Linked DNA regions of Homo sapiens: regions 2 and 3 are each linked to region 1. The links come from fine-mapping of genetic effects on gene expression. A gene starts in region 1. Each other region holds a variant in brackets. All regions are shown on one strand. Distances are between the middles of the regions. Region 1 holds the start of AGO2 (argonaute RISC catalytic component 2). Region 2 overlaps AGO2 (argonaute RISC catalytic component 2). Region 3 overlaps AGO2 (argonaute RISC catalytic component 2).

Region 1 (4,102 bases):
ATCTGTTAGCCATGCTGAGTGAGGGACACCAGAAGAAAAGCAGGTTGGGAGGAGGGTAGGGATGGGGCTGCAGGAAGCGGGCTGAATTCCTGAACACAGGTGTGGAGGGTAGAGACCTGCAGAGAATGGGCTTATCTAGGAAAAGAGCAGAGGGAACCCCGTGCCCCAGAGGGCGAACCCAGTGACTGCATGGGCCCTGGGGATAGAGATGGGGCAGGCAGCAATGGCACCCCTCCGCCAGCAGAGGGCCACGGTGTCCGCCATCCAAAGAGAAGTGACACAATGAAGCCCTCAGAGACATTATCTTGCCTTCTGGAACGAAATCCTTGCAACAAAGTTCCCCAACACAGCGCTCAAAGGAGCTGAAGGCGGGCTGAGGGCAGCCAGTGATGACAGAGCCTTCTGGGCCTTTGCTGAGGCGTGCAGTCGCTGACAGCAGGGCAGTTGGGCCTCAGGGATTTCGGGCCAAAACGAGTTTTGGGGATATGTGAAGGAGACAGGGGCAGAGAGAGAGGGTGGGCATCTGCGAACTGGGAAGATTGATGAGGTTGCATGGTTCATAAATAGGAAAGTGGTAACATTCATGATTATTTAAAAATTTCCGTGAAATACTACAGTAAAGGTACAGAAAAGCATATAAAGTAAAAGTGCAGTTTAAGGGATGGCTGCCAAAGGGCACCATTGCAGGAAGGAACAGGCCTGGCACCCCCAAATCCCCCAGGGGCCCTGCTGTGGTCACAGCCCTCTCACCCCCAGCTGTATCCACCATTCTGACACTTAGAGTAAGCACCTTCTTGCCCTTCTGTCAATTATTTACTACTTAATGATGCTTCCCTAAAGAATGCAGTTTAATTTTGCCTGTTTTGGAATTTTTGTGAATGGCTAGATTCCATCCTGTGAATATGAGCACACTGTTTCTCCATCCTGCTCTCCGTGGGTATTCAGTGCCATGCAGTCCAAGCGGTGATGAAGAATGCCATGCACACTCCTACCCAGGTTTCCTGGTGTTCATTACTACACATTTCAGGAGCACGTTTTGTATCGGCAACTTGGTGAAGACTGATGTCCTTTTGAGTTTTCGGAGGAAGTGCTGGTTCTCCTGCCCTTCTTCAGGGCTGTCCTCCGAGACTGCAGAGAACTAGTGACCACCCTGCTGGCTGCGGAGCTCCTGTCAGTCAGAACTCCTGTTTATTCTCCGCCCGGAACAGGGCCTTGCACCCATATGCAGACAGCCGATGCCACGGGGTGAAGGAATGCTCCGGGAAATCTGGGAAAAGGCGACCAGGCACTTTAGATTGTGGGTCAACCTCTGCCTTCTAATCCTCCATCACTTAGGGGAGAAAGGAGGTAGCCACAGGCTGGCTTTTCCAGGAAAGCCTCCGAAAACCAGACGGACCCAGAGGGACCGGACAGAAACGCTCGGAGGTGCACGACGGTCCGAGCAGGCCCCTGACTGCTGGAATGGGCGTGTCCGCTGATCTGATCCCTGATACCAGCTACAGTTTACTAAAAACTTCTTAGATTTTCTCAGTGCTTTAAACGGATTATCTGGGTTCTGGGGCCGCGCCGGGAGGTGGCGGTGTGGTCCTGCGCGAGCGGCCGGCCGCGTTCAAGTTCAAGCTCCGGGCTGGGAGGGAGCTTCCCGACCTCCGTGTTTCTGTAGTAACTTAAAGAGCCAGGCTGGGGGCCGAGGGGCTGAGGGTGGGAGGGTTCTGCGCCCCCCACCGGGGGGCGGCGGGGAAAGCGGGGGCGCGTGGCCTCCCCTCCGGCTCCGGCGGCACAGCCGGGGGGCCCGGCTCCTCCCCGTCGGGAAGACGCGGCTTCTCTGGGTGGCAGTGAAGGGTCCCCGGGGCCGCGCCCGCCCCCGCGCCACACGGGCCGCGCCGCCCTCGGCCCTCGTCCCCGCTCCCGCCCGCGGTTCCCACCGCCCGGCGAGGTCTCCGGGCCCCTCCCCGGGTCCCCGCCCCAGGCCCCGCCAGACCCGGCGCCGCCGCCGCCGCCGCCGCGGACCCCGCCCGCGCGCCCAGCCCCGCTCCCCCCGCGAGCGCGCTCCCGCCGCCGGCCTCGCCTCCCCTCCCCCTCCCTCCTCCTTCCTCCCCCGCCCCTCCCGCTCCCGCTCCCGCCGCCGCCTCCGCCCGCCGCCCCGGCCGCGTCGGGTAAACCTGTTTGGCGAGGCGGCCGCGCCGGGGCGGATCGTGCGGCCGGCGGCTCCCTCGCGGCTCGCGGCGTCGGGGCCCGTGGCGCGCGCGCGGCCGCCCCTCGGCCCCGGAGCCCCTCGGCGGCGCCACCATGTACTCGGGAGCCGGCCCCGGTGAGTCCTGGCGCTCGGGGCGCCCGCCCGGCCGTTCGCGCGCTCCTGCCCGTGGTTGGCGGGCCCGGCGCGGGCGGCAGGGGCCGGGGATCGGGGGGCCGCGGGGTCGGGGCGGCGGGGGCCGGGGGCGGGCGAGCCGGGGCCGCGCTTGGGGGCTCGAGGAGCGGCGGCGGCGGGGCCGAGCCGGCCGTTTTCTCGGCCCCGCGTTGGACGCGCAGCCCCGGCCTCCTCGGCCCCCGCGAGTCGTCGGGGCGCCCCGCGCGGCCTGGGCCCCTCCCGCGCCTCGGGCCCGCGTCCCAGCGTCCTCGCATCCCCCGCCCGGGGCCCGCGGGCTGGGGCCGGGGCCGAGGCGGCCGCCGCGTGTAGGCCCGAGGCCCGGAGCGCCCCGCTTGGCCCGGCCTCGCTGCCCGGGCGGGGATGGGGGCGCCGCAGCCCGGCCCGGCCTGACCCTGAGCGCCTGAGCGGGTGGAGGCCGGGTCGGGGCGCCCGGCTCGGGGCGCGCACGGGCGGGAGGGGAGGGGGCTGCGCCGGTCCCGACCCCAGCCGCGGTGAGTCTGTGGCGCGCTCCGTTGTGGCCCTTCTTGTTGCCGGCACTTCTTCGGCCCCTTTTCCCAAGGAAAGTCTGGAAATGCTGAATTTTGGCCAATTCCTGTAGTTAGGGCTGTCGCCTGGAAAGGGGAGGACGCGGCTCCCCGGAACCCTCAAACTGCGTGCGCGGCTCGTTCTCATTCCAGACACGCCGGCCTCCCCATTCAAGTGCTAATTCCTTTTACAATTTCCTAGGAGAGGTGAGGCGAGGTGGATTCCTGTAGCACCCCTTGTTGCTAGTCGGCCTTTCTCTGGAAAAGTTCTAAAAAACTTAAAGCGGTAACGCGTTGTTTTTCTTTTTAAATGCAGAGTAGAAGGCGGTCTCCTTGGTGGGCCAAAAAAACGGTCAGGTGTTCTCCTGCTTTTGGCGTGCTCCCACCGGGCACGTGGCTCCTGGCTCTCTCGGCCGGCCTGGCCGCTGGGACGGGGCACCGCCTGCTCCCCTTTGTCCGCTGGGCCCCAGCCGGGCCGCAGGCGGCGCAGGCCCCGCCGGGCTCTGGGCTTATGTTTACCCGGCCGGGCGAGGAGGCTCGCATTCCCGATGCTGCCCTCGTTGCTGCAGACCGGCCCCAAATTGTGGGGTCCGGAAGGCCCCCTGGCCCACCTTGGTCCGTTGATGGTGGCCCCCACTGCTGGAGCTGTTGGCTCTGTGCCTTGCGAATGTCGCGTCTTTTTTCTGATGTCATTTAGAAAGCTTCAACAAGGCGGAGTCTGACCAACTTTTCAACCCCTGAGGGCCATCAGCAGTTTGAAGAATGATTTTCCCCCTCCACCTGGGAGGGGCCGCAGTCCTGGAGCAGGTGCTGGCCTCTAGAGGCCTTGGGTGGCCAGGCCCCCTCTTGGGAAAGGACCGGGCATCCCCTTGTGAGTTGGGACCTTCCAGCTCCTCTTTGTAGAGGAACCCAGCTTATGGGACTGACAGCACTACATTTTTTCAGGTTATCGGTTTTAAAAGTTGGAGGCCCAGAAAAAGTGAAGAGGCTTTAAGGAAGGTCAAGCTTTCTGTGTTGTGTTTTGCGTGTTACTTAATTCACTCCACTTGCTGAGGTTGGTGGTGTTTGTGAAGACAGACAGCCGAGGCTCACAGAGGTTGAGAACTTCACCAAGGTCACACAGCAGTGAGTGAGTATCAGGACAATCGGTCCGACTTCCGAGCTGGTTCTCTGGGTGCCTTCCTCAGGGCAGTCCCTTTCAAGCCCTATA
Region 2 (4,102 bases), 23 kb after region 1:
CCTCCCGTTTTGGAAGTGAGGAGACTGGGGCACAGAGGGGTTCAGGTCACGCAGCAGTAAGTACTGGATCCTGGATTCAGACCTGGTGGTGCCTCCAGGTTCTAGAACCTTGACTCGTGTGGCTCCTGGTCTGGTTGTTGGACCCCAGGCCCGGAAGGACGCCTTAGTAGAGTGTGGGCTGCATTGTCACTGCAACAGGTTGCTGAAGACATGAGGAGAGTAGCTTGCATTCCTTTGCCATAATTATGCAAACGTGCAGGACTTTTAGGGGACCTCTCTGAAATAGAGCAAACTTCATTAGGGAATCAAAGGAAAAGATTGGCTCAGAATTTAGTGGGTTTGGATTTCCCAGTGTTTTCATTAAAGAATTGGTTTAATGTGTTTTTCTTAGGACACTGTTTTGAATAAATGAATATTGACTTGAGTCCTGCCTTTGCTTTTGTTTTGTTTTGAGACGGAGTCTCACTCTGTCTCCTAGGCTGGAGTGCAGTGGCACGATCTCGGCTCACTGCAACCTCTACCTCCCGGTTTCAAGCAGTTCTCCTGCCTCTGCCTCCCGAGTAGCTGGGACTACTACAAGCACACGCCACGCCCAGTTAATTTTGTATTTTTAGTAGAGACAGGGTTTCACCATGTTAGCCAGGATGGTCTTGAACTCCTGACCTGAGAGATGATCCGCCCGCCTTGGCCTCCCAAAGTGCTGGAATTACAGGCGTGAGCCACCGTGTCTGGCCTTTTTTTTTTTTTTTTTTTTTTTTTGAGACAGGGTCTTGCTCTGTTGCCCAGGCTGGAGTGCGTTGGGGATGATCATGGTTCACTGCAGTTTCAACCTCCTGCACTCAAGCGATCTCACTTCAGCCTCCTGAGTAGCTGGGATCACAGGCATGCACCACTACATCCGGCTACTTTAAAAATTTTTGTTGTGGAGACGAGGTCTCTCTGTGTTGCCCAGGCTGGTCTCAAGCCCCAGGGGTCAAGTGACCCTCCTGCCTCGGCTTCCCTAAGTGCTGGGATTATAGGTGTGAGCTACCATGCCTGGCCAGCTGTTCTTTATAGTGTGATAGAAACCAGACCCGAATTTCTGCAGTGGTCTTGTGGATAGAGTTCCATTTGTCGCCGATTCTGCCAGTATTACCGTTATTCCTGAAGAAACCTCAGGCAGGGCTGCTGTGTTTTTAAGAAAATACTCTAGATGACAATCCACTCCTGGAAAGGGACATTCAGACGGCAGCTCTTCAGCTGTTTTTGGTTGGGACCTCTTTACATTCTTAAGTTATTGAGAACCCCGAAGACCATTTGTTTATGTGGGTTATATCTGTTGTATTACAAATTAAAACAGGAGTTTAAAAAACATTTGATACAACAACATGTCATTATATTAAATATGTATTCATATAAATGTTTTTATGAAAGATAATTTCTTCTAAAACAAAATATAATGAGAAGAGTGGCGTAGTTTTACATTTTTCCTAAATCTCCTTAAGGTCTGCCTTAATAGAAAGCATCAGCTGGCTTCTGCATTCTGTCGACAGGGATATGTTGGGGTTTTTTTGTTTTTTGTTGCTGTTGTTTTTTGAGACGGAGTCTTGCTCTGTCGCCCAGGCTGGAGTGCAGTGGCGCTATCTCGGCTCACTGCAAGCTCCGCCTCCCGGGTTCACGCCATTCTCCTGCCTCAGCCTCCCGAGTAGCTGGGACTACGGGCGTCTGCCACCACACCTGGCTAATTATTTTGTATTTTTAGTGGAGACGGGGTTTCACCGTGTTAGCCAGGATGGTGTCGATCTCCTGACCTCGTGATCTGCCCACCTCGGCCTCCCAAAGTGCTGGGATTAAAGACGCGAGCCACCATGCCTGGCCAGGGATATGTTGTTTTGGTTGAAGTATAAAAAAAAAAATCTGGCCTCATGCAGCTATGTAGCTGGAAGGGAGGGTTGTTGTTGTAGCCTTTTCAGATAATTATGGGTATTTGTTGCTACTACACCA[A/G]AACTCGAAAAACAGTAGTTTCATTTTGTTTTTTTTGAGACCGAGTTTTTTGGGTCTTGTTGCCCAGGCTGGAGTGCAGTGGCGCAGTCTCGGCTCACTGCAACCTCCGCCTCCTGGGTTCAAGCGATTCTCCTGCCTCAACCTCCGAGTAGCTGGGATTACAGCCACCACACCCGGCTAATTTTATATTTATAGCAGAGATGGGGTTTCACCATGTTGGCCAAGCTGGTCTCAAACTCCTCGTGTGATCCACCTACCTCAGCCTCCCAAAGTGCTGAGATTACAGGCGTGAGCCACCACACCCAGCCAGAAAAAGCAATAGTTTCTTGAAAGTCAGGTGCAGTGTAGAATCCGCAGCTGTAGAACTGCAGCCCGAATGGATCCTGTCTCCCATGTGTTTTGTCCATCATGCACCAGGCATTTGGAACACACTAGCTCACAGAGTTACACGGGCCTTCCAGCAGTGACACATTTAATCACACAGATCATCAAAACATCCCATTCACGAACACTGCTGAACTAACCAGAAGTCTTTTTTTTTTTTTTTTTTTTTTTTTTTTTTTTTTTTTTTGAGACAGAGTCTCGCTCTTGGCCAGGCCGGAGTGCAGTGGCACAATCTCAGCTCACTGCAACCTCCGCCTCTCAGGTTCAAGCGATTCTCCTGCCTCAGCCTCCCGAGTAGCTGGGACGACAGGCGCCCGCCACTGCTCCCGGCTAATTTTTTGTATTTTTAGTAGAGACGGGGTTTCACCGTGTTAGCCAGGATGGTCTCGATCTCCTGACCTCGTGATCGCCCGCCTCGGCCTCCCAAAGTGCTGGGATTACAGGCGTGAGCCACCGCGCCCGGTCGAACTCACCAGAAGTCTTTTAAGTATTTGGAAGCTTGAAGCTCATGGTGGTGAATATGTTTTCCACGATTATAATTTTTATGTTAAAGCTTGAATTTTACGATTGCAACAGACACCATCAGCCATTTTCTTTGAAGTGCAGGTCACTAGGTCTGCTTGGAGAAGACATCTGCCCGGCACCCTACTCGAGGTCACAGCTCGAAAGGCCACACTCAAGTGCCTCTCCTTGGGGTAGCCTCACACTTAGGGGTATGTGGGTATGTGCACCCCCCACTTCCTCATACAGAACATTCAAAAGGCTTAAGAGACCAGGCACGGCCAGGCACAGTGGCTCACGCCTGTAATCCCAGCACTTTGGGAGGCCGAGGTGGGCGGATCACCTGAGGTCAGGAGTTTGAGACCAGCCTGGCCAACATGGTGAAACCTCGTCTCTACTAAAAATACAAAAATTAGCCCGGTGTGGTGGTGGGCGCCTGTAATCCCAGCTACTTGGGAGGCTGAGGGAGGAGAATCGCTTCAACCTGGGAGGCAGAGGTTGCAGTGAATTGAGATCGTGCCACTGTACTCCAGCCTGGGCAACAGAGCGAGTCTCCATATCAAGAAAAAAAAAAAACAAAGGCTTAAGAGTCAATGTGGAATAAACTTGATGCTTTTTGCTGCTTTCTGCAGGAGTTTTAAGGTAGGCTGGCTTCGTCCCCGTGCTGTGCACGTGCTGTGGTGGTGAGTCCAGCGTCTGAGGGTACTGCCTGCCATCGCCGCCTTGCACTGTGCAGATGCACCTGCAGTTTCACCTTAGCCACCGGAGCAAATGTCAGCACAGGGAAAACACAAGCCGCTCTGGCCCTGGGGACCTCCCTGAAGCTCCCCGGACCACACTTAGAGAACCGCTAAGTCAGAAGACTCCTAACTCCTGTTCTGTTTAACTCTCGAATGATCTGCATGCGCGCGTGTCTACTTAATCCCAGAGTGTTTCGGAGAGATGTTCCACTTTAATTAAATTGTATCATGATTTACACACATGTTTGAATAAAACCACCCAAGAAGAGCATCTGATTTGGAATCTAAAATCTCATCTGCATGGAGTGGCCGCCTGGCTGAGTCTGTGAGAGATTTGGGGGACTGTGTGTTTTTTTCAAAGTCTTTGGATGGACTGTTGCTTTGAGCATATGGGGGGGTTGGCCATGGGCAGGACAGGGGCTCCCAACCCCTCTGGTGCAGAGACAGTGGGGCCCAGGGGCCTGTCGCCTTCAGGAACCAGCCTAGGCTGGGCC
Region 3 (4,102 bases), 99 kb after region 1:
GGAGGACCGGAAGGCAGAGGGTTATCATCTACTTGGCACCCAGGAAAGAATACTTCAGAGTGTTAGACTCCCTACAGGCACGGCTGTGCAAGGACACAGGGAAGGTTTACTGTGCAAATGGAAGGTGAAACAGAAGTTAAGCATCACAGTGAGGAAAAAGGATATTTTATCACAGTAAAAGGAATCATTCACCAGGCCAGGCACGGTGGCTCACGCCTGTAATCCTGGCACTTTGGGAGGCCGAGGCAGGTGGGTCACCTGAGGTCAGGAGACCGAGACCAGCCTGGCCAACATGGCGAAACCCCATCTCTACTAAAAATACATAAAATTACCCAGGCGTGGTGGCGGGCGCCTGTAGTCCCAGGTACTCGGGAGGCTGAGGCAAGAGAATTGCTTAAACCTGGGAGGCAGAGGTTGCAGTGAGCCAACATTTTGCTACTGCACTCCCGCCTGGGGGGCAGAGTGAGACTATCTCAAAAAAGAAAAACAATACCCAAAAATAAATAAGTAGAATGATTCACCAAAAAGATACAGCAACTAATGAGCTTGAATGTACCTAACACCAAATTATGTAAAGAAAAAAAAAGTAAAGCAAAAACTAACAGCATTTTAAGGAGAAATTGATGAACACGCCATCAAAGGTGGATATTTTTACACAGCTCTTATTATACTGTTTCCAGACAAAAATGAAAAACTAAGGAAAAAAAATTGGGGCCAGGCGTAGTGACTCACGCCTGTAATCCCACCACTTTGGGAGGCCAAGGTAGGTGGATCGTATTAGTCCAAGAGTTCAAGACTAGCCTGAGCAACAAAGTGAAACCCCATCTCGAAAAGAAATTTAAAAATTAGTTGTGTATGGTAGCATACGCCTATGGTCCCAGCTACTCAGGAGGCTGAGGCAGGAGACTTACTTGAGCTCAGGAGGCTGAGGCTGCAATGAGCTGTGATTGCACCACTGCACTCCGACCTGTCTTAAAAAAAAAAAAAGAAAAGAAACCCTGAAAATTGGAAGAGTGAAATGAACAAGCCAAGCCAGGTCTAATAGCTAGATAGAATCTTCCCTACAAATAGCTGAGTTCACACGGAAGGGTTATAAAAGTTCTACCAGGACAAAGGAAGTCTCGGGAGCTTTCCAAACTTCAGTCTCAAGCCATATTTTTTAAATCATTATACAATTAAATTTTAAATCAACAGTAGAAACGAAGTGGAAGAATGTTTTCAACTTTCAATTCACTGCTGAGTAGCTCATGCATTAAACATGTAACAAGAATAGAAATCACAAAGTACTCAGAAGCTAACACAATCGAGAATGTCCTGTCAAGCCTTATGCAATGCAGCTGAAACAGTGCCGTCTGTAGATTCAGATGAATTTGTTGTACAACAAGAAAGAGGGCCATAAAAGAAGCCTAAAGACATAGGAAGGATGGGAATAAGAGACCTCAGTCCCCAGGAGTCAAGGGAAGGCTGAGGCACTCATGGCCTTGGGTGTCTTCCCCTGTCCCCCTTCCTCCCCGCTGCAGCCCCCAGATCTCTGTTGCCAGGAGGCAGGAGGGCTCGGAAGTCAGCTTGCTCCTGGTGACACCTACACGCCACTTCTCCATCCTAGAATGGAAAATAATTGAGGTAGAAACTGAAGAAGAAATAAAGCAGATGAACAAAATCCAAACCTACTTTGAAAAGAGATATTAGGGCCGGATGCGCTGGCTCATGCCTGTAATCCCAGCACTTTGGGAGGCCGAGGCAGGCAGATCATGAGGTCAGGAGTTCAAGACCAGCCTGACCAACATAGTGAAACCCCGTCTCTACTAAA[A/G]ATACAAAAATTAGCCGGCCGTGGTGGCACATGCCTGTAGTCCCAGCCACTCGGGAGGCCGAGGCAGGAGAATCGCTTGAACCTGGGAGGCAGAGGTTGCAGTGAGCCGAGACTGCGCCATTGTGCTCCAGCCTGGGTGGCAAAGCAAGACTCCATCTCAAAAAAAAAAAAAAAAAATTGCAAAGAAGGGAACACACTGGAGATTCTTTTTTGTATGTATATTTAAAATGTGTACAACTAGAAAACATTCATCAGGGACCTTGCTAAATGCTGGAGCAGGGCTTGTGGGGTGGGGGTTTGCTGCTGGCGTGGCCATGCCTGCATCTTGGCTGACTTTTTGGTCCATGCTTGTGACCTTGTAATTAAACCATTGAATGGTTATATGTACCGCCCCTGGCCTCTGGGACAGTCTCTGATGGAGCCGCCCTGCTCTCTCAGGTGCTGGGCGCAAGCTACCGGCAAAGCACAGGCACTCCTGACAGCGTTCAGAGCCTCCCAGCGCCTCTGCCTGGAGCGCCGGTGTGCTTGTGCTTGGATGATGGCTTGTCCGCAGCCAGTCACCTGGTTTAGCTTTAGATGTGTACGTTGGTGACAGTTTCCATCTTGACCTCAAATCAAAATAGCACCAACAGTATCGAGGGACTCTTAAGGCATCAGAGGCACGTTCTGCAGTGAAAAGACTGCATTTAACTCATGGGCCTTCATGAGAGTTGGCGGAAAATAACCCCAGCCCACATGGAACATTAATTCATTTAACCTGGTGGTCAGCAGTTGTTAAATTTTATGTAACACTATCCTACCGAGGACCTGTATTAGCCAATTTAAAAACTTCAAAATAGGGCACCCTGGCCAGCGGGCGGCGCGGCTGCCTGGCCCGCCTGCTTGGCTCTGCCGGTCCCTGGCCGTGTCTAACGAGATGCCTGTGTTGCCGAAGGTTGGGAAAAGTGGAAACATTCCAGCAGGCACGACTGTGGACACGAAAATCACCCACCCCACCGAGTTCGACTTCTACCTGTGTAGTCACGCTGGCATCCAGGTAAGGCCGGGAGTCCCCTTCGGACAGAGTCTTGGCCGTCTGCCGTGTCATCCCCACATTCAGCAAACACTTGCACTCTGGCTGGCACGTGGGATGTGGTGTGAGGGGCCCACACAGGCAGTACCAGGGAACCGGGGAGCCCAGGCTGTGCCAGGCGCTGGGGTGGGGAGAGGGGCCTGGGGGGTGGGTCAGCATGAGCCTCCCAGAAAAAGGAAGTCCCATTTGGTAGGGCTGAGGAGCAGGGAGCACCAAGGGCCTTGGGGAGCCAGGGGTGTGGTGTGGCTGGAGCTTGGTGAGGTCTGAGCAGGATTGAGGCGCTGGGGCTGCCATGGGGTGGAAGCTGGAAGGCCACTGGGCAGCTGCTGCAGGGGCCGCATGGGGCAGACTTGGCGTCGATTCACGAGCACTTGGCGCAGTCAGCCTTGCCGTCCCCTCGCGCAATCACTGGCCAGGGCCAGGCTCCAGCCAAGGACTGGGTGCTCAGAGAAGGTGGCCATGGTGTTGGTTACCACCTTGAGGCTCTCCTGGGTTCCTTCATGAGGGGACCCCCATCTGACCCAAGGCGATTCTTGGGAGCACTGACAGGAGCAGGAGCACCACGTCCGTGGTAGGAGCTGCCCCTCCCCAGCTCTGCAGAGCCTCGCCCGGGGGACAGGAGGAACCTTAGTCACGTGCCGTCCCTGCCTGCAGAGAGCTTGATCAGAGGGGCTTTTGGTTTTTCAAAGTATAAGTAAGGACTTGAATATCCCTTCCTAAAGGATTTGAACCCTAGAGTTTGAGGATTTGCTATGAACTTTGTACGTACCTTTAATATTCCATTGGAAATATTTTAAAATGTCACATTGTTCACATGCCTGACAGAGAAGGAATGGGGGCTAGGGAACCGTGGCCTGTGGGCCGGGTCCAGCCTGCAGCCCGGGAGCTGAGAGTGGGTTTTGCTGTTTGAAGGGTTGTTGAGAAGCAGGCGATGGAGTGCGTGCAGGGTTTGTGGCACTTCCTGGTGCAAAGTGCCTGTCCCAGTGTTGGCTTGCTTTGCCAGGGCTGGTGAGATGGGCCTGGGGCCATGCCCTGCCTGCGTGTGCCCTCTGTTCAGTCTTCCCTTCTAGTCGGGGAGCCTCACCCACCAGGGCCTCCTGGGCATGTTTCCTGGGCAAACTCTTCTCCCTGAACTTTCTACCCAAAATCTTTCTAACGGGGGATGCTTCTCTGGTGAGCTATTTATGGCCCAAGGCTGCCACTGCTGCTGTGTCCTTAGC

Evidence for each region. PIP is the estimated chance that this variant, and not a neighbour inherited with it, causes the effect. A credible set is the group of variants that fine-mapping cannot tell apart.
Region 2: its variant is the best candidate, but not a certain one, in a credible set for the expression of AGO2 in whole blood (INTERVAL, PIP 0.78).
Region 3: its variant is the best candidate, but not a certain one, in a credible set for the expression of AGO2 in iPS cells (iPSCORE, PIP 0.68).

The regions. Positions count from the first base shown.
Region 1 is chr8:140,633,694-140,637,795 of GRCh38, reverse strand. AGO2 (argonaute RISC catalytic component 2) reads left to right here and starts at 2,163. Exons shown (of 19, transcript NM_012154.5): 1 at 2,163-2,311. The coding sequence starts at 2,290. It overlaps ERICD (E2F1-regulated inhibitor of cell death), which reads right to left and starts at 3,561. Exons shown (of 1, transcript NR_170171.1): 1 at 1-3,561. RefSeq lists silencers at 1,599-1,998, 2,649-2,818, 3,302-3,351 and enhancers at 3,158-3,924, 3,925-4,102.
Region 2 is chr8:140,610,673-140,614,774 of GRCh38, reverse strand. The region is part of intron 1 of AGO2 (argonaute RISC catalytic component 2); the gene reads left to right. LOC107986982 (MAGE-like protein 2) reads left to right here. Exons shown (of 2, transcript XM_017014159.2): 2 at 1-2,526. Among named protein-coding and RNA genes, the nearest start is that of ERICD, 22 kb to the left of the region's middle. The variant A/G (reference allele first, on the strand shown) is at 1,984.
Region 3 is chr8:140,534,212-140,538,313 of GRCh38, reverse strand. It overlaps AGO2 (argonaute RISC catalytic component 2), which reads left to right. Exons shown (of 19, transcript NM_012154.5): 17 at 2,745-2,846. Among named protein-coding and RNA genes, the nearest start is that of CHRAC1, 25 kb to the right of the region's middle. The variant A/G (reference allele first, on the strand shown) is at 1,811.